2 separate regions of the Homo sapiens genome follow, and region 1 is linked to region 2. Evidence: fine-mapped expression QTL. A gene starts in region 2. The other region holds a variant in brackets. All regions are shown on one strand. Distances are from middle to middle. Region 1 overlaps ZNF785 (zinc finger protein 785). Region 2 holds the start of MIR762HG (MIR762 host gene).

Region 1 (9,992 bases), 300 kb after region 2:
CTCGAACTCCTGACCTCAGGTGATCTGCCCACCCCAGCCTCCCAGAGTGGTGCTGGGATTACAGGCATGGGCCACCACGCCCAGCATTTTTTTTTTTTTTTATTAGAGAGTTGCCCAGGCTGGAGTGCAGTGGCCCGATCACAGCTCACTGTCCCTTGAATTTCTGGCCTCAAGCGATCCTCCCACCTCAGCCTCCTGAAGTGCTTGGATAACAGGTGTGAGCCATGGCACCCGGCCCGACTCCTCTTTCATTATCTCCAGTGCTCAGGGCCTTCTTGTGTTAACCTGCAGACCATGGCATTTGCTTTTACTCCAGGCTGGCTTTCAGGGCTTCATGAGGCCCCTATCATTAAGCCGTGCTCCCTGGGCGCCATATTCTGAACCATTCCTGCTGCCTTCCAAGGCAGGACATGGTCCCGGAATATGCTGGTTTTGACTTTATCATCTTTCCTGTCTCAGGATCCAGGGATGAGTTTCTGATTTTATCATCTTCCCTGTTTCAGGATCCAGGGATGGGAATGAGGAGAAGGAAAGGCTGAAGAAGTGTCCAAAACAAAAAGAGGTGGCGCATGAAGTGGCTGTCAAGGAGTGGTGGCCCAGCGTCGCCTGCCCAGAGTTCTGCAACCCTAGGCAGAGCCCCATGAATCCCTGGCTCAAGGACACTCTGACCCGAAGACTGCCCCACTCTTGCCCAGACTGTGGCCGCAACTTCAGCTACCCTTCCCTCCTGGCCAGCCACCAGCGGGTCCACTCCGGGGAGCGGCCCTTCTCCTGCGGCCAGTGTCAGGCGCGTTTCTCCCAGCGCAGGTACCTGCTCCAGCATCAGTTCATCCACACCGGCGAGAAGCCCTACCCCTGCCCCGACTGCGGGCGCCGCTTCCGCCAGAGGGGTTCCCTGGCTATCCACAGGCGGGCTCACACCGGGGAGAAGCCTTACGCGTGCTCAGACTGCAAGAGTCGCTTCACTTACCCCTACCTGCTGGCCATCCACCAGCGCAAGCACACGGGCGAGAAGCCCTACAGCTGCCCCGATTGCAGCCTCCGTTTCGCCTACACCTCCCTGCTGGCCATCCACAGGCGCATACACACCGGCGAGAAGCCCTACCCCTGTCCTGACTGCGGCCGCCGCTTCACCTATTCTTCCCTCCTCCTCAGTCACCGGCGCATTCACTCCGACAGCCGGCCCTTCCCCTGCGTGGAGTGTGGGAAAGGCTTCAAGCGCAAGACCGCCCTGGAAGCCCATCGGTGGATCCACCGCTCCTGCAGCGAGAGGCGCGCGTGGCAGCAGGCCGTGGTGGGGCGTTCAGAGCCCATCCCTGTTTTGGGAGGCAAGGATCCCCCAGTTCACTTCCGGCACTTTCCAGATATATTTCAAGAGTGTGGGTGATGGCGTTCACACAAACTGGTCAGCGTTTCCCTGGAGAGGAAGAGGCAAGGTTTGTGTATTTGGGGGATAAGGAAAGGAAGTGGGCGTTTGAGGAAAACAAAGTTCTGCCTTAGGTAAAAAGCAGAGGTAGGGGCACAGAGGGCTGTGGGGAGGAGGCAGGAATCTGAAAAGGTGCCTGGGGGTTGACCCCATTTTCTGAAGCTCCAGCACACAGGGCCCCGTGTTCACGTCCCATCCTTCACTGAAAACCATTCACCTAACTGGCTTTTCCTTCATGATTGTTCTCTCCCTTGTAGCTCTCTGCTTTTTGGCCTGTATCTCTCCTACTCCTCTGAGATGGGGTCCCCTACATTCCAGTGCCTATTAAAGGAGCCTGCACCCACTCTGGACCCCCCAGAATAGAGGGGATACCTCAGGCCTGTCCCTCGGCTGGTGGGGGGGGCGGAGCTCATCCCAGGATTCTTTTCTTTTTTTTGAGATGGAGTCATGCTCTGTCGCCCAGGCTGGAGTGCAGTGGCGTGATCTCGGCTCACTGCAACCTCTGCCTCCTGGGTTCAAGCCATTCTCTGCCTCAGCCTTCCCATTAGCTGGGATTACAGGCATGCGCCACCAGGCCCAGCTAATTTTTGTGCTGTTAGTAGAGACGGGGTTCCACCATCTTGGCCAGGCTGGTCTTGAATTCCTGACCTCGTGATCCACCCGCCTCGGCGTCTCAAAGTGCTGGGATTACAAGCGTGAGCCACCGACCCCTGCCGAGGATTCTGCCTTTTACCAATGCAGGTGAAACATCTGGCAAGGAGACACCTGGAGTGTAGGTGTTCCTTGGTCTTGAAGACCTAGAGGTGGCCATAGAGAGGACAGTGGCCTCAGGTGGGGAACTCCCCCCCCACTCTCATTCTGCAAGTGCACAAACTATCAAACATAGCGGACTCTGGAACTGGGCCAACTCTTCACTGTATGCATTAGTGATTGCAGTGTTTTTTTCTTCTTCAGATATTTGCATGTTCCCTGGATTTTGTATTTTTTGATAAAGATATATTCTTGGGCCACAGTAGCTGGAGATATAATGCCGGAGGATTCTTTTTTTTTTTTTTTTTTTTGAGACAGAGTCTGTCTCTATTGCCTGGGCTGGAGTGCAGTGGCCCAAGCTACGCTCACTGCAAGCTCCACCTCCTGGGTTCACACCATTCTCCTGCTTCAGTCTCCCGAGTAGCTGGAATTACAAGCACCCGCCACCACGCCCAACTAATATTTTGTATTTTTAGTAGAGACGGGGGTTTCACCGTGTTAGCCAGGATGGTCTCGATCTCCTGACTTCGTGATCCTCCCGCCTCGGCCTCCCAAAGTGCTGGGATTACAGGCGTGAGCCACTGCACCCAGCCTCTTTTTTTTTTTGAGATGGAGTTTCGCTCTTGTTGCCCAGGCTAGAGTGCAATGGCATGATCTTGGCTCACTGCAACCTCCGCCTCCTAGGTTCAAGCGATTCTCCTGCCCCAGCCTCTTGAGTAGCTGGGATTACAGGCACCCACGACCATGCCTGGCTAATTGCATTTTTACTAGAGACAGGTTTCACCATGTTGGCCAGGCTGGTCTCCAATTCCTGACCTCAGGTGATCCACCCGACTTGGCCTCCCAAAGTTCTGGGATTACATTTTTTTTTTAAAGAAAGAATAAATTAATTGTGATTAAAGTTGAAATCAAGGCATAGTCTTTCCAGTCTAATTTTTACTGTAATGCTTGTATGTCAACAGTTATGAAGGCCAGGCGCGGTGGCTCACGCCTGTAATCCTAGCAGTTTGGGAGGCTGAGGAGGGTGGATCACTTAAGGTCAAGAGTTCAAGACCAGCCTGGCCAATATGGTGAAACCCCATCTCTACTAAAAATACCAAAAAAAAAAAAAAAAACGGCCAGGCACGTTGGCTCACACCTGTAATCCCAGCACTTTGGGAAGCCGAGGCGGGCAGATCACGAGGTCAGAAGATCGAGACCATCCTGGCTAACATGGTGAAACCCCGTCTGTACTAAAAATACAAAAAAATTAGCCAGGAGTGGTGGCAGGTGCCTGTAGTCCCAGCTACTTGGGAGGCTGAGGCAGGAGAATGGCGTGAACCCGGGAGGCGGAGCTTGCAGTGAGCCGAGACTGCGCCACTGCACTCCAGCCTGGGTGACAGAGCGAGACTCCGTCTCAAAAAAAAAAAAAAAAAATTAGCCAGGCCTGGTGGCGTGCACCTGTAATCCCAGCTTCTTGGGAGGCTGAGGCAGAAGAATGGCTTGAACCCAGGAGGTGGAGGTTGCAGTGAGCCAACATAGCGCCACTGCACTCCAGCCTGGGCAACAGAGCAAGACTCTATCTCAAAAAAAAAAAAAAAAAAAGGCCTGGTGTGGTGGCTCACGCCTGTAATCCCAGCACTTTGGGAGGCTGAGGTGGGTGGATCACGAGGTCAGGAGATCAAGACCATCCTGGCTCACACAGTGAAACCCCATCTCTACTAAAAATACAAAAAATTATCCGGGCATGGTGGCGGGCGTCTGTAGTCCCAGCTACTGGGGAGGCTGAGGCAGGAGAATGGCATGAACCCGGGAGGCGGAGCTTGCAGTGAGCTGAGATCGCGCCACTGCACTCCAGCCTGGGCGACAAAGTGAGACTCCAGTCTCAAAAAACAAAACAAAACAAAAAACAACAGTTAAGAGAGTTCTTTCTGGCCCATTTAGATCTGCTAGCCCTACTTTTGAAGAGGAAACTTTTGAAGGAATGAACAAAAGAGGTAGGTGGGACTAAGCATTTCTGCATTCCAGGACTGGTGGTCAGTGACTCAAATATCTCTTTGAAAAGACTGCTTCTTTGAATCCTTGGGTTCCAAGATAATTAATGGGAACTGGTGCCGGGCACGGTGGCTCACACCTGTGATCCCAGCACTGTGGGAGGCTGAGGCTGGTTAATCACTTGAGGTCAGGAGTTTGAGACCAGCTGGGCAATATAGTGAAACCCCATCTCTACCAAAAAATTAGCCAGGCGTGGTGGCACATGCCTGTAGTCCCAGCTACTCAGGAGGCTAAGGCAAGAGGATCACTTGAGCCTGGGAGACAGAGGTTGCAGTAAGCTGAGATGGCTCCATTGCACTCCAGCCTGGGCTACAAAGCAGGACTCTGTCTCAAAACAAAAACAGATACAAAAACTGGGAACGGGGTGTTATCTTTACTTCACCACATAGCCTCTCCTGAATTGGTGGACCTGGATTCCTAGCTTGGCTCAGTCCCCACTGGCTGTGTGGCCTTTAGCATCACCTAGATTCTACAAATAACATTTTTCTCTATTTGTTTTACACATGTCAATCTGCCTATCCATCCCTCTATCCATTCATTTATCCATTTTATTAATGTATTTCAAAGTAAGTTGCAGACATCATTACATTTCACTTC[T/G]AAACACTTCAGCATACAGCTGAGTTTTATGCAAGAAACTTAAGCTCTCAGCTGGGTACAGTGGCTCACACCTGTAATCCCAGCACTTTGGGAGGCTGAGGCAGGAGGATTGCATGAGATTGGGAGTTTGAGACGAGCCTGGAAAACAGCAAGACCTCATTTCTACTAAAAATTTTAAAAATTAGCCGAGCATGGTGGGGGAGGGTGAAGAAGGAGGATAGCTTGAGCCCAGGAGTTTGAGGCTATAGTGAGCTATGATGGCGCCACTTCAGTCTGAGTAACAGCAAGACACTATTAAAAAAAAAAAAGAGCCAGGCGCAGTGGCTCACACCTGTAATCCCAGCACTTTGGTAGGCCAAGGTGGGCAGATCACCTGAGGTCAGGAGTTTGAGACCAGCCTGACGAACATGGAGAAACCCTGTCTCTACTAAAAAAAAAGAAATACAAAATTAGCCAGGCATGGTGGCACATGCCTGTAATCACAGCTACTCGGGAGGCTGAGGCAGGAGAATCGTTTGACCCCAGGAGGCGGAGGTTGCAGTGAGCCAAGATCGTGCCATTGCACTCCAGCCTGGGCAACAAGAGTGGAACTCTGTTTCAAAAAAGAAAGAAAGAAATTCAGCTCCCACTTAAAGTTCAGTTGTACTCTGTTATTGACAAGTAAAGTCGATTGAAGCCCAGTCATCTCCTGTATGTTGTGTGACTTCTCATAATTATCTGATCAAGAGTCTTGAAGAAACATTTACAATTTGATGGGCAATAAAATAATTTGAAAGCAAGAGCATTTTGTTGTTCTTGTTATTTCTTGAGACAGGGTCTCACTATAGCCTAGGCTGGAATGCAGTGGCACAGTCACGGCTCACTGCAGCCTCGACCTCCTGGGCTCAGGTGTTTCTCGTTCTCATCTCAGCCTCTTGAGTAACTGGGACTACAGGCATATGCCACTATGCCCAGCTAATTTTTGTATTTTTTGTACAGATGGGGTTTTGCCCAGGCTGGTCTTGAACTCATGGGCTCAAGTGATCTGTCTATCTGAGCCTCCCAAAGTGGTAGGATTACAGGTGTTAGCCACTGTGCCCGGCCAATTTTTGTATTTTTATAATGAGTGGCAGGAAAAACAACTCATCAGCTACACGGAACAGTTTTAGTCTTACTTGAAAGTTTGTTTCAGGCCTGGCGCTATGGCTCATACCTGTAATCCCAGCACTTTGGGAGGCCGAGGACGGTGGATCACTTGAAGCCAGGAGTTTGAGACCAGCCTGGCCAACATGGCAAAACCCCATCTCTACTAAAAATACAAAAATTAGCAGGTTGTGCTGTTTTCAGCTACTTGGGAGGCTGAGGCACGAGAATTGCTTGAACTCGGGAGGCAGAGGTTGCAGTGAGCCGAGATTGTACCACTGCACTCCAGCCTTGGCCACAGAGTGAGACTCTGTCTTAAAAAAAAAAAAAAACCACAGGCCGGGTACAGTGTGCAGTGGCTCATGTCTGTAATTCCAGCACTTTGGGAGGCCAAGGCAGGCGGATCACGAGGTCAGGAGATCAAGAGCATCCTGGCCAACATGGTGAAACCCTGTCTCTGCTAAAAATACAAAAACTGGGTGTGGTGATGCGTGCCTGTAATCCCAGCTACTCAGGAGGCTGAGGCAAGAGAATCGCTTGAACCAGGGAGTTGGAGGTTGCAGTGAGCCAAGATCCCACTACTGCACTCCAGCCTGGCGACAGAGCGAGACTCCATCTAAAAAAAAAAAAAAAAAAGTTTCTTTCAATCTGTTTAGTTAATATTTTTATTGTTCAGCTTCATCTTCTTAAGTCTTCTGCATACTTAGTTCAAAGAGAAGTGATTTACAACATAGGATCTGAAGAAACAAAAGTATTTTTGGTTCAAGTTGCTACTCTGTTTAAAAGGAGAATCCAAATAGCCACTCACCTGTAGTCTTAGCTACTCAGGAGGTGGAAGTGGGAGCATAGATCACTTGAGCCCAAGAGTTCCAGGCTGCAGTGAGCTTTGATCTTGCCACTGCACCCCAACCTGGGTGACAGAGTGAGACTCTGTTTCAAAATGACAATAATAGGCTGGGCATGGTGGTCCACACCTGTAATCCTAGCACTTTGGGAGGCTGAGGTGGGAGGATCACTTGAGCCCAGGAGTTCCAGACCAGCCTGGGTATCATGGAGAGACCCCATCTCTACAAAAACGAAAATTAGCCAGGCATGGTGTTGCACACTTCTAGTTCCAACGACTTGAAGGCTGAGGTGGGAGGATCACCTGAACCCAGGGAGGTTGAGGCTGCAGTGAGCTGTGATCATACCACTGCACTCCAGCCTGTGTGACAGAGTGAGAACCTGTCTCAATAATAATGATAATTAATAATAATAATCATAATAGAAGGAGAATCAAAATAAAACATGCAGATGGTCAACAGGTACATGAAAAAATGCTCAACACCACTAATCATCAGGGAAATGCAAATCAGAACTACAATGAAGCCGGCCTGGTGGCTCACGCCTATAATCCCAGCAGCTTAGGAGGCCGAGGTGGGCGGATCACCTGAGGTCAGGAGTTTGAGATCAGCCTTCCCAACATGGTGAAACTCCATCTCTACTAAAAATACAAAAATTAGCTGGGTGGCTGGGCGCGGTGGCTCACGCCTGTAATCCCAGCACTTTGGGAGGCCGAGGTGGGTGGATCATGAGGTCAGGAGATCGAGATCATCCTGGCTAACACAATGAAACCCCATCTCTTCTAAAAATACAAAAAATTAGCCGGCGTGGTGGCGGGCACCTGTAGTGCCAGCTACTCCAGAGGCTGAGGCGGGAGAATGGCGTTAGCCCGGGAAGCGGAGCTTGCAGTGAGCCAAGATCGCGCCACTGCACTCCAGCCTGGGCAACAGAGCGAGACTCCATCTCAAACAAACAAAAAAATTAGCTGGGCATGGTGGTGCACGTATGTAATCCCAGCTACTCAGGAGGCTGAGGCAGGAGAATCGGTTGAACCCAGGAGGGGGAGGTTGCAGTGAGCTGAGGTTGCGCCACTGCACTCCAGCCTAGGCTGCAGAGCGAGACTGACTCAAAAACAAAAAAGCACACAATGAGATATTATCGTACCTTAGTTAGAATGGCTGTTATTAAGAAGACAAAACATGACAGGTATTGGCAAGGATGCTAAGAGAAGGCAACTCTTGACTGGGCGCAGTGGCTCACGCCTGTAATCCCAGCATTTTGGGAGGCTGAGGTGGGTGGATCACCTGAGGTCGGGAGTTCAAGATCAGCCTGACCAACATGGAGAAACCTCATCTCTACTAAAAATGCAAAATTAGTCAGGAGTGGTGGCACGCGCCTGTAATCCCAGCTACTTGGGAGGCTGAGGCAGGAGAATCGCTTGAACCCTGGTGGCAGAAGTTGTGGTGAGCCAAGATTGTGCCATTGCACTCCAGCCTGGGCAACAAGAGTGAAACTCCTTCTCCAAAAAAAAAAAGAAAAAAAAAGAGAAGGGAACTCCTACACACTGTTGGTGGGAACGTAAGTTAGTACAGCCACTACTGAAAACAATATGGAGATGTCTGAAAAAAACAAAAACAGAACTACCATGTGGGCTGGGCATGGTGACTCACACCTGTAATCCCAGCACTTTGGGAGGCCAAGGCTGGTCGATCACCAGAGGTCAGAAGTTCACAATAGCCTAGCCAACATGGCAAAACCCCTTCTCTACTAAAAATACAAAATTTAGCTGGGTGTGATGGAGGGTGCCTGTAATCCCAGCTACTTGTGAGGCTGAGGCAGGAAAATCACTTGAACCTGGGAGGCAGAGGCTGCAATGAGCCGAGACCAGGGCATTGCACTCCAACCTAGACAACAAAAGCAAAACTCCGTCTCAAAAAAAAAAAAAAAGAACTACCATGTGATCCAGCAATCCCACTACCTGGAATTTATCCAAAGGAAAAGAAATCAGTATATAAAAAAGATAACCTGCATCTCCGTGTTTACTGTAGAGCCGTGTTTACAATAGCAAAGATATGGAATCAACCTAAGTGTTGATCAGGGGACAAATGAATAAAGAAAATATGATATATATACACAGTGGACTTAAGCCATAAAAAATGAAATCATGTTTACAGCATGGATGGAACTGGAGGTCATTATGTTAAGTGAATAAGCCAGACACAGAAAGGCAAATATCACATGTCCTCACTTACATGTGGGAGCTAGAAAAGTTGATCTCATGGAGGTAGAGAGTAGAATGATACCAGAGATTGGAAGGGTGTACGTGGGTGGGAGAGGTGGATGAAGAGAAGTTGGGTAATGGGTACAAACATACACTTAGGAAGAAGGGATAACTTGTAATGTTCAATAGCAGAGTAGGGTGACTGTAGTTAACAAAGTACTGTAAATTTCCATAGCTAGAAGAGAGGACTTGAAATTTTCCCAACACATAGAAATGTTAAATACTCAAAGTGATTGATACCTTAAATATCCTGACTTGATTATTGTACATTCTATGTATGAAGAAAAGCAAAATATCACATGAACTCCATAAATATGTAAAAATTTTGTGTATCAATATATTTTTTGTTTTGTTTGTTTTTTTTTTTTTTAGATGGAGTCTTGCTCTGTCACACAGGCTGGAGTGCAATGGTGTGATCTTGGCTCACTGCAACCTCTGCCTCCTGAGTTCAAGCCATTCTTGTGCCTCAGCCTCCTGAGTAGCTGGGACTACAGGCGTCCGACTCCACACCCAGCTAATTTTTGTATTTTTAGTACAGACGGGGTTTTGCCATGTTGGCCAGGCTGGTCTCGAACTCCTGACCTCAGGTGATCCTCCCGCCTTGGCCTCCCAAAGTGTTGGGATTACAGGCACAAGCCACTGTGCCCAGCCCAATTTTTTTTTCTTTTTGAGACGGGGTCTCACTCTGTCACGCAGGTTGAAGTGCAGTGGCATGATCTTGCTCACTGCAACCTCTGCTTCCTGGGTTCAAGGAATTCTTGTGCCTCAGCCTCCTGAGTAGCTGGGACTACAGGTGTGCACCACCAGACCTGGCCAATTTTTGTATTTTTAGTAGAGATGGAGTTTCAGCATGTTGCCCATGCTGGTTTCTAACTTCTGGCCTAAAGCAATCTGCCCACCTCAGCCTCCCAAAGTGCTGAGATTACAGGTGTGAGCAACTGGGCTGGGCCTAAATTAAAT
Region 2 (9,992 bases):
CCAGTATTCATTCACAGGTTTTTTCCCCCGTCTTTGATGTAAAATATCTATATAGTAAAATGCATAGGTGTTAATTGCTTGATTCAGTGAATTTTAACAAAAGCATAGTGCCAGGTGCGGTGGCTCACTGGGAGGCCAAGGCAGGAAGGTCATTTGAGTCCAGAAGTTTAAGACTATCCTGGGCAACATAGTGAGACCTCATCTCTACAAAAACTTAAAAAAAAATTAGCCGGGCATGATGGTGCACACCTTTAGTTCCAGCTACTTGGGAGGCTGAGGTGAGAGGATCACTTGAGTCCAGAAGTTCAACACTGCAGTGAGCTATGATTGTACCACTGCACTCTAGCCTGGGCAACAGAGCAAGACCCTGTCTAAAAAAAATAAAAATAAAAATAAAACCAGAACAAAACAAATGCATACATCTGCATAAGGAAACTGTTCTCAAATACAAAACATCACTATCACTTGCCAGAAAGTTCCCGTTGCCCCCTTCTCATCTCCAACTCCCCAGAGTCAACCGCTGTTCTGACTTTTTTTTTTTTTTTTTGTATTTTTAGTAGAGACGGGGTTTCACCATGTTAGCCAGGATGGTCTCAATCTCCCGACCTCGTGATCCGCTCACCTCAGCCTCCCAAAGTGCTGGGATTACAGGCATGAGCCACCGCGCCCAGCCTGTTCTGACTTTTTTAATAAGACAGGGCCTTGATCTGCTGTCCAGTGTGGAGTGCAGTGGCATGTTCACAGCTCACTAATTTTTTTTTGTATTTTTTGCAGAGACGGGGTCTCACCATATTGCCCAGGCTGGTCTTGAACTCCTGGGCTCAAGCGATCCACCTACCTCTGCCTCCCAAAGTGCTGGGATTACAGGTGTGAGCCATGCACACAGCCTTTTTGTTGTTGTTCAAACAACTTTAATGATGCCACAATGTCTGTCCTCCCCCAAGTAACTGGGTAAAGTGTTTTTTTTTGTTTGTTTGTTTTAGATCATAGCTCACTGCAGCCTTGAACTCCTGGGCCCAAGTGATCCACCTAAGCTTCCCGAGTAGCTGGGACCACAGGCATGTGCTACTGCGCCCAACTACTTAACATTTTTTTTTTTTTGAGACGGAATCACGCTCTGTCACCCAGGCTGGAGTGCAGTGGCGTGATCTTGGCTCACTGAAAGCTCTGCCTCCCGGGTTCACGCAATTCTCCTGCCTCAGCCTCCCAAGTAGCTGAGACTACAGGTGCCTGCCACCATGCCCAGCTAATTTTTTTGTATTTTTAGTAGAGATGGAGTTTCACCATTTTAGCCAGGATGGTCTCGATCTCCTGACCTCGTGATCCGCCCGCCTCAGCCTCCCAAAGTGCTGGGATTACAGATGTGAGCCACCGTGCCCAGTTTTTTTTTTTTTTTTTTTTGTAGAGAAGGGGAGTCTCTCTGTGTTGCCTAGGCTGGTCTGGAACTCCTGGCCTCAAGGGATCCTCCTGGCCTCACAAAGTGCTGGGATTACAGGCGTGAGCCACCACACCTGGCCTGATTGTTTTAAAGTAACGGATTGGGTGAACCTGTTCTGGAACTTCATGTAAATAGAATTAAGCAGTATGTAACTCTTTTGCATCTGTTTTCTTTTACTCAGGCTAATATTCTTGAGGGTCATCCGGATTATTGTGTGAATCAGTAGTTTGTTCCTTTTTACTGCTAAATTATATTCCATAGGCCAGGATCACTCTGCTGGGTGGAGAAGAGATGGGCCCTGCCAGGGCTCAGAGACTCAGGTGAATGCACCACAGGGAGATGGACAGCCTTTTCTTAGGAATTTCTAGAATGCGAAGTCTGTGGCATCAGTCTCCCCAAAAATCTGGGAAAACAGAACTACATCAGGAGAATCTAGCATGACCAAGCATCCCTGTTTGCCCAGGACTTTCTTGGTTTTAGCACTGCAGGTTCCATGTCCCAGGAGACACCCCAGTCTTGAGCAAACTGGGATGGCTGATCACCATCACCCTAGCAGGATCCTGCCACTGCCCTTGGGGCTTCCGGACCCTTTTCACACAAGATTACATTCTGTTCCTCCTACAGAATGATTTTCCTTAAACTCTAAACTGGGCTCCTCTCCTGTTCTAAAACTTCCCATGGCTCCCCATGGCTGAGCCTGGCAACTGAAAGCACGTAGTCTCTGGTAGTGTGCATACTGGAATCACCTGGGGAATCATTTAAATATTCTGATGGCTGCCTTCTACCCTTGACATTTTTTTTTTTTTTTTTGAGACGGAGTCTCGCTTTGTCACCCAGGCTGGAGTGCAGTGGCACGATCTCAGCTCACTGCAACCTCTGCCTCCCGGGTTCAAGTGATTCTTCTGCCTCAGCCTCCTGAGTAGCTGGGATTACAGGTGCGTGCCACCACGCCCAGCTAATTTTTGTATTTTTAGTAGAGACTGGGTTTCACCATGTTGGTCAGGCTGGTCTCAAGCTCCTGACCTCGTGATCCACCCACCTCGGCCTCCCAGAGTGCCAGGATTACAGGCGTGAGCCACCACGCCCAGCCACCCCAGACATTTTTGTTTTTTTTGAAATAGAGTCTCGCTCTGTCGCCCAGGCTGGAGTGCAGTGGCACGATCTCGGCTCATTGCAACCTCTGCCTCCTGGGTTCAAGTGATTCTCCTGCCTCAGCCTCCCGAGTAGCTGGGACTACAGGCGCGTGCCACCACACCCAGCTAATTTTTTTAAATTTTTTTATTTTTAGTAGAGACGGGGTTTCACCGTGTTAGCCAGGATGGTCTCAATCTCCTGACCTTGTGATCCGTCTCCCTCGGCCTCCCAAAGTGCTGGGATTACAGGCATGAGCCACCACACCCGGCCCCACCCCAGACATTTTACATTGGTATCATGTGCAACCTGGGCCCTGGGATTTTTTGTTTTGTTTTGTTTTTTTGAGTCTTGAGTTTAGCTCTATCGCCCAGGCTGCAGTGCAGTGGCATGATCTTGGGTCACTGCAACCTCCGCCTCCCAGGTTCAAGCCATTCTCGTGCCTCAGCCTCCCAAGTAGCTGGGATTACAGGTGCCTGCCACCACACCCGGCTAATTTTTGTATTTTTAGTAGAGATGGGGTTTCACCATGTTGTCCAGGCTGGTCTCGAACTCCTGACCTCAGGTGATCCACCCGCCTTGGCCTCCCAAAGTGCTGAGATTACAGGCATCAGCCACTGCGCCCGGCCAAGGGCCCTGGGATTTTTACAAGCTCCTCAGGTGATGCTAACATGCTGCAAAGCTTGGAGCTGTGAGCCTGTGAATGTGATTTGTTTGGCTTACATGGTGTTGAACATGTTGGCAACATTAAAATCAAGTGATTTCATATAAAAATCTGGACTAGGCTGGGCGCGGTGGCTCACGCCTGTAATCCCAGCACTTTGGGAGGCCGAGGCGGGTGGATCACGAGGTCAGGAGATCGAGACCATCCTGGCTAACACGGTGAAACCCCATCTCTACTAAAAATACAACAAATTAGCTGGGCGCGGTGGCGGGTGCCTGTAGTCCCAGCTACTCGGGAGGCTGAGGCAGGAGAATGGCCTGAACCCAGGAGGCGGAGCTTGCAGTGAGCCGAGATAGTGCCACTGCACTCGGGCCTGGTGAAAGAGCGAGACTCCGTCTCAAAAAAAAAAAAAAAATCTGGACTCAGGCCGGGTGACGTGCCTCACACTGTAACCCCAGCACTTTGGGAGGCTGAGGCAGGAGGACTGCTTGAGCCTAGGAGTTGAGGCTACAGTGAGCTATGTGTTGCTACCCTTCAACCTGCGCGACAGAGCAAGATCCTGTCTCTACCAAAAATAAAAAAAGAAATCTGGACTCCAGCTACCCTTGAAAGCAGATATTCTGAGATACTGAGTTTGCCTCCTGGAGTGGTCATGGGGCGGAGGTTGGTGGGGTAGGGGGGTAGGGGGTGCAGAACACTGACTGCCCTGGGGGCGGAGTCTCTGCCCTTCAGTCCCCGCAATCCCTACCGCTCCCTGGTGTTCCACTCTCCTCCTTGCTGTTCACTTGCATGGCCTCCAGGCTAATGGCTGAGTTTTGCGGCCAGGCATTTCAGGCCTCCCAGCCTTGGCCTCTGCTCACCTTCTCCACCTCCTCACTCCCTGCTCTAGTCATCTTCATCTCATGTCCTGCCCTCCAGCCACATGGGCTTCTTGGTCCCTTCCACACCTGTTTTTGCCCATGGAGTTCTCCCACCAAGTTCCTTATGGTAGAAAAGCCCCTGCTGGATTTGGCCCCTGCCCACCTCTCCTGCCCCTTTCCCCAAGCTTTCTTCCAACTCATGCATAGAACTTCTACCACAAGGAAGCTGGCCAGGCTGTTAGCACTCCCGTTCCCTCTGTCTGTGAAGCCCTTTCCTTCCCTCCACCCTCCCCTTCTCTCTCTTATCTCAGGCTTTGGGTTTGATTTCACCTCCTCCAAGGTTCCCTGACCTTCAAACTAGGTCAGGTCCCTGGTTAGTCACTATACTTCCTCTTTCTCACCTCCTTCATCTCACTTCCCCTGCTAGAATAAGGCCACATCTGTCTCATAATCTCTGTCTTCCTAGGGCCTAGTGTGGTGCCTGGCATACAGTAGGTGCTCATTAATGATAAATGAATGAAAGCAAGCACATCTCCCTTTCTCTACTGGCAAAATCCTAATCCTTTTCTGGTTACATTTCTCCTGTAGCATCCAATTCTGTTCTCGAGACCCAAAAGATCCCTGAGGTCCTGTGATCAATGGAGTTTTAGCTCAGGTCCATTTCACAGTGGGCCCAGGGGATCCCCAGATTCATCCGTGGTTATTTCCCCAGGCACAGAGTGAGTGCACTGGTGGCACAGGCATACCCAGCAAGTGGCATAATCCCCCCCATTAGTTAACTGGGTGTCGCTGTGCATGGCTGTGAAGGCAGGGATGCACCTGGCTGGTGACCCCAGAACCCCTCCGGGTACGGCACAAGGGCAGAGCCCAAGAACTTACTTTCTGTCCTCTTGCATTTGCCTGTGGATTTGCAGTTGGTAATGGCGTTCTTGCCCGGCCCTCCTTTGTTCCTCCAGGCAGCCAGGCAGCTGTGGCGTAGTGAAAGGGCAGGATGCGGGATAGGAATGGAGTTATTCCTGATTCAGACTGATTTGCTCTAACTGTGATTTGGGGCAAGTCCCTTCCCCTGTCTAGACCTTAGCTGGCTGCCGCATCTAAAAAATGGAGCCAATAATCTTTTCCTCGTCTTTGGGGTCATCCATCTTTCAACCACATCAGGAGCAGCGGGAACCAAGTGCAGAGGATGGCCTTAAAAGCAGTATGGGAACCAAATTTTTGTAAAGTAAATATTTTCAACCTTTATATTTTGGAATCACCAGCGGTATTTATTACGTGCACTCTAGGAAATGGAGGCAATGCAATGCCAAAAACAGAAAGTAAAACTGCTGTCCTGTGCCGCGGCCCGGTGGAGGTTTTAATGTCTGTATCTTAAGATCTGGTGAGGGCACGGGTAGGTGCGGCTGGACTGAGTGAAACCAGCCCCGCTGGGCGCCTGGGCCCTTGTCTCAGGGCTGTGCTCGCAGTGGAGGCATCTGCAGCTCGGCACCCAGAGGCCCCGCGACCCTTCCAACCTTTGTGACGCTCCGCGGAGACAAAGGCCGGCGGCGCAGCCTTGGGAAGGGTTAAGGCCACAGACGCAGCCCTGCGCGTGCTAGAGCGGCCGGTGGCGGACTTCCGGTTGGGGCGCGGGCGCGCGCCGCGTGTTCCCGACCCGCCGAGGCTGAGACCTCGGGCAACCTCAGCAGTGCGCAGGGCTGCACTGTCTCCGTCTGCGGCCTGCAGTAAGCGGGTAGGGGATATGTCGCGTGGCCTCGCCTGGTCTGCGGCGGGAAACTCGCATCTAGGCCAGACCCTCCCGCAGGGTCCGCACTCGCGATCTGGGCTGTGGGCAGCATCGTGGCCCCTCGGGGCGTTATAGGGGCGTGAGGATCCCGGGCGAGCTGGGGGCGGGCGGCTTCTTCAGCTCCCTTGCGCCATGGAACCCACTGTATGCCCGTTATGCAGTCAGGAAAGATGAGGCCGGGAAGGAGGGCGTTACGCTGCAACCCCGGAGACCAGCTGTCCCTCGCGTTGCCGCAGTCGGCAGAGGCGTGGCCGGAGCCATTCCCGGTCTCCAGTGCGGCTGCAAGAGCGGGCGCCCGAGGGCGTTCTGCTCCGGGCCTCCACCCGCGAGCTGACCGTGTCAGGCGCGCCACACACGGCGCTTCTCATTCTCTCTCCACCTCGCGAGGCAGAAGCTGCCGTTCCCGTGTCACAGACAGAAAAACAGTCTGGGGTGATTTATCCGGAGTCAAGACTCAGGTCTGTGGCTCAGTCGGGAAGGATAGAAACCCAAGCTTCCTCCGAATGGTTCAGAGACCCGACCAAGTTAAATAATAATGGCCCTGGCTCAGGGGTCTTTAAGTCTTCCCCCCGCCCTCCCCTTTTGTTTTTGTTTTGTTTTGAGACCGCCTCACTGTCCCCCAGGCTGGAGTGCAGCGGTGCGATCTCCGCTCACTGCAGCTTCGACCTCCCGAGGGCTCAGGTGATCCTCCCACCTCAACCTCAGGAGTGTCTGGGACTACAAACACGCGCCACCACGCCCGGCTAATTTTTCTGTTTTTTGTAGAGTCAGGATCTCGCTATGTTGTCCAGGCTGGTCTGGAACTCCTGGGCTCAAGCGATCCTCCTGCCTCGGCCTCTGAAAGTGCTGGGATTACAGGCATGAGCCACCGCACCTGGCTACCCTTTAATTAACTCAAGGAGTTTAATAATTGAATTTAGGCTGGGCTCAGTGGCTCACGCCTGTAATCCTAGCACTTTAAGAGGCCACGTCGGGCAGATCACTTGAGGTCAGGAGTTCAAGACCAGTCTGGCCAACATGGTGAAACCCTGTCTCTACTAAAAATACAAAAATTAGACGGATGTGGTGCCACACACCTGTAATCCCAGCTACTCGGGAGGCTGAGGCAGGAGAATCCCTTGAACCCGGGAGGCAGAGGTTGCAGTGAGCCAAGATCGCACCACTGCACTCTAGCCTGGGCCACAGAGCAAGAATCTGTCTCAAAAAAAAAAAAAAAGGTTTGACACCTATACCTTCCTCTGTGTGTGTGTGTGTGTGTGTATACATATATCTATATATATATGTATATAGAGAGAGGAGGAAAAATTATATAATTTTTCTATATGTGTGTGTGTGTATATATATCTGTACAATTTTTTTTTTTTTTGAGACAGTGTAGCTCTGTGGCCCAGGATGGAGTGCAGGGACTCGATCTCGGCTCACTGCAACCTCCGCCTCCCAGGTTCAAGCGATTCTCCTGCCTCAGCCTCCCGAGTAGCTGGGATTACAGGCTGCTGCTACCATGCCTGGGTAATTTTTGTATTTTTAGTAGAGACAGGGTTTTGCTATGTTGCCCAGGCTGGTCTGGAACTCCTGAGCTCAAAAGTGATCTGCCTGCCCCAGCCTCCCCAAATGCTGGGATTACAGGTCTGAGCCATCACACCCGGCCCATATATACGTATTTTAAAATAACACCTTTACTGAGAGAGATGACTCACACACCATACAACTCACCCATTTAAAGTGTACAGTTCAATGATTCTTAGTATCTTCACAGTTTTGCAAATATCACCACAGTCAATTTTAGAACATTTTCATTACCCCTAAAAGAAACCATACCCATTAACAGTAACTCCCAAGCCTTCCTCCCACTACAGCTCTAGACTACTGCAAATCTACTTTCTGTCTCTATAGAGTTGATTATTTTGGACATTTCATATTAGGGCTTTATGTGGCCTTTTTTGACTGAGATAACCTTTTTGTTGTTGTTTTTAACAAAATCAACTCCTTGAGCTCAGAGCCCTGGCCTATAATCATAGCCAGCTAGAACTGAACAGCATTGTTTTGGTTTTATTGTATCTATTTTTACCACTCTTGGGTACATGATAATTTCTCATTTATGGCAGTGGTTAAAGTTTCCTTTTGAATACACCTAGTTCCATCAAAACGTGAGTTGATAATTTTTAAAGAACAAGATTAAGTAAACAGAAGTAGAGGTGGTCCACAAATTTGTCAGAGGTTGGGAAGATGGGATGTGAATGAAGTTTGGCAAACACTGGATTGTCTGATTTACGGTTCTCCAGGTCATCATTTGAAAACCACCCTCACCTTATTCTTTCATTGCATTTTCCTGACAACTCCTGTAAAGAAGTGCATGATTTTACCGATGAAGAAACAGGTTCAGAGAAGTCAGGTACAATTACTTGTCCAGTGTCACACAGCTAGTGACAGAAGCTAGGCTTAACCAAGTCTGTCTGATTGCCAAAACTACCTACTTACCAAGTCTGGAAGTAGGATAGGGGGTGGGGAATGGACTAGCAGGCTTGAGAGGGGACTCTGGCCACTACCCAAAACATGCGGGCACCAGGCTGCCTGAGTTGTTTTGGGTACCTCTTCTAACAAATATTCAAATATTTCTATGAAACAATTTATGACTCTAAACAGAAATCCCATCTCATTTGCCACTGGGGCTTTCACCCTCTCTCAACGGCACACCGCAGTTCAGGAAGTGCTGCCTGCCTGGAGAATGAGGGTGTGTGTGAACGTGCGTGCTGGTGGTGAGGAGAGTCTGATCTCTAGTTCATCTTGGTTGCTACTGGCATCACTTTCCAAGCCCACAGGGGTCCCTTACACTCCATGACTTCTGCCCTATTCCACCTGTGGGCACCAGAGTCTCTAGGCTGGCTGGGATTACCTGCATATAGGGTCCCATGTTTCTGGAATGTCAGGCCGCCACCTGCTCTCAGGACTGACCACTTTCCTGGAGCACAGCCGCAGGGTATTCACCATGACTCCCTCTCTCCCCTTCCTGGCCAAGGACTTTCCCACCTCTTGCCATCATCTTCATCAGAACTCTGCCTCCTCCCTCAGACCCTATTCCTCATCTTATTCTTTCCCTGTGGGCTTTAACTGACCATTAAATTCAGAACCCATTCCAATAACACGAATATCCTTTTCCAGAGAGAGCTTAATTTTATACCTTAATTTTTGAAATTATAGCATATAGAAGATAAGCAAAACAACCAGGTCCTGCCATGCTCTTGTTCAACACCGATTTAACTCAGTCCACCTCTCTCACAGCTGTGCAATTCAACTTGACCCAAACTTGAGGCTAAGCACCTCCAGACAGGATGATTAGGGTCCATCTGGTCTCACTCAACTTAGGTGAGAATCTCAACCCTAAATCCAAGCAATTATCTGAGTAATTCTGGACCCTATAAAACAAAATAGTGGCCGGGTGCGATGGCTCACACCTGTAATCCCAGCACTTTGGGAGGCCAAGGTAGGCAGATCACCTGAGGTCAGGAGTTCAAGACCAGCCTGGCCAACATGGTGAAACCCTGTCTCTACTAAAAATGCAAAAATAAGCCAGGTGTGGTGGTGCCTGCCTGTAGTCCCAGCTACTCAGGAGGCTGAGGCAGGAGAATCACTGGAACCCGGGAGGTGAAGGTTGCAGTGAGCCAAGATCGTACCACTGCACTCCAGCCTGGGCGACAGAGTGAGACTCAGTCTCAAAAAAAAAAGCTAACATTGAGCTAGGTGAATATTCTCAGAGCACTACATGCATAATCTTACAAAATCATTTCAATAACTTAGTGAGGTAAGTACTCTTATTATTTCCACTTGACAGATGAGAAAAGCAAGGCACAGAGAAGTGAAGTCACTTGTCCCATAGTATATAATAGAGGCAGATCTGAATCCGTATCATCTGACTTCAGAGTGTGTACCCTCAAACACAGAGTTCAGATGAGGCTAACTCCAGCCATCGTTTACAGCAGCATTTCAGTGTTCCCTATACGCTGTCCCCCTCCTAAGTCAGTTTCTAGCTACTTGGGAAGCAGAGTTGGGGATTCCTCTTCCCAGAGATCCAGAGTCGGAGCACCCCAAGACCTGGATCTCCCACTCAGGACACCTTTC

What was found. PIP is the estimated chance that this variant, and not a neighbour inherited with it, causes the effect. A credible set is the group of variants that fine-mapping cannot tell apart.
Region 1: its variant is the best candidate, but not a certain one, in a credible set for the expression of MIR762HG in thyroid (GTEx, PIP 0.77).

Annotation. Positions count from the first base shown.
Region 1 is chr16:30,573,955-30,583,946 of GRCh38, reverse strand. ZNF785 (zinc finger protein 785) reads left to right here. Exons shown (of 3, transcript NM_152458.7): 3 at 504-3,291. The coding sequence ends at 1,387. It also overlaps a transcript of ZNF688 not described here. Among named protein-coding and RNA genes, the nearest start is that of ZNF785, 6.7 kb to the left of the region's middle. The variant T/G (reference allele first, on the strand shown) is at 4,808.
Region 2 is chr16:30,871,099-30,881,090 of GRCh38, reverse strand. It overlaps MIR762HG (MIR762 host gene), which reads right to left and starts at 5,631. Exons shown (of 3, transcript NR_110942.1): 1 at 5,605-5,631; 2 at 4,973-5,061. It overlaps MIR4519 (microRNA 4519), which reads left to right and starts at 5,768; the gene lies at 5,768-5,825. It also overlaps a transcript of BCL7C not described here. RefSeq lists a silencer at 4,859-4,918 and enhancers at 5,239-5,288, 5,319-5,528, 4,838-5,592, 5,799-6,058, 5,593-6,347 and 1 more.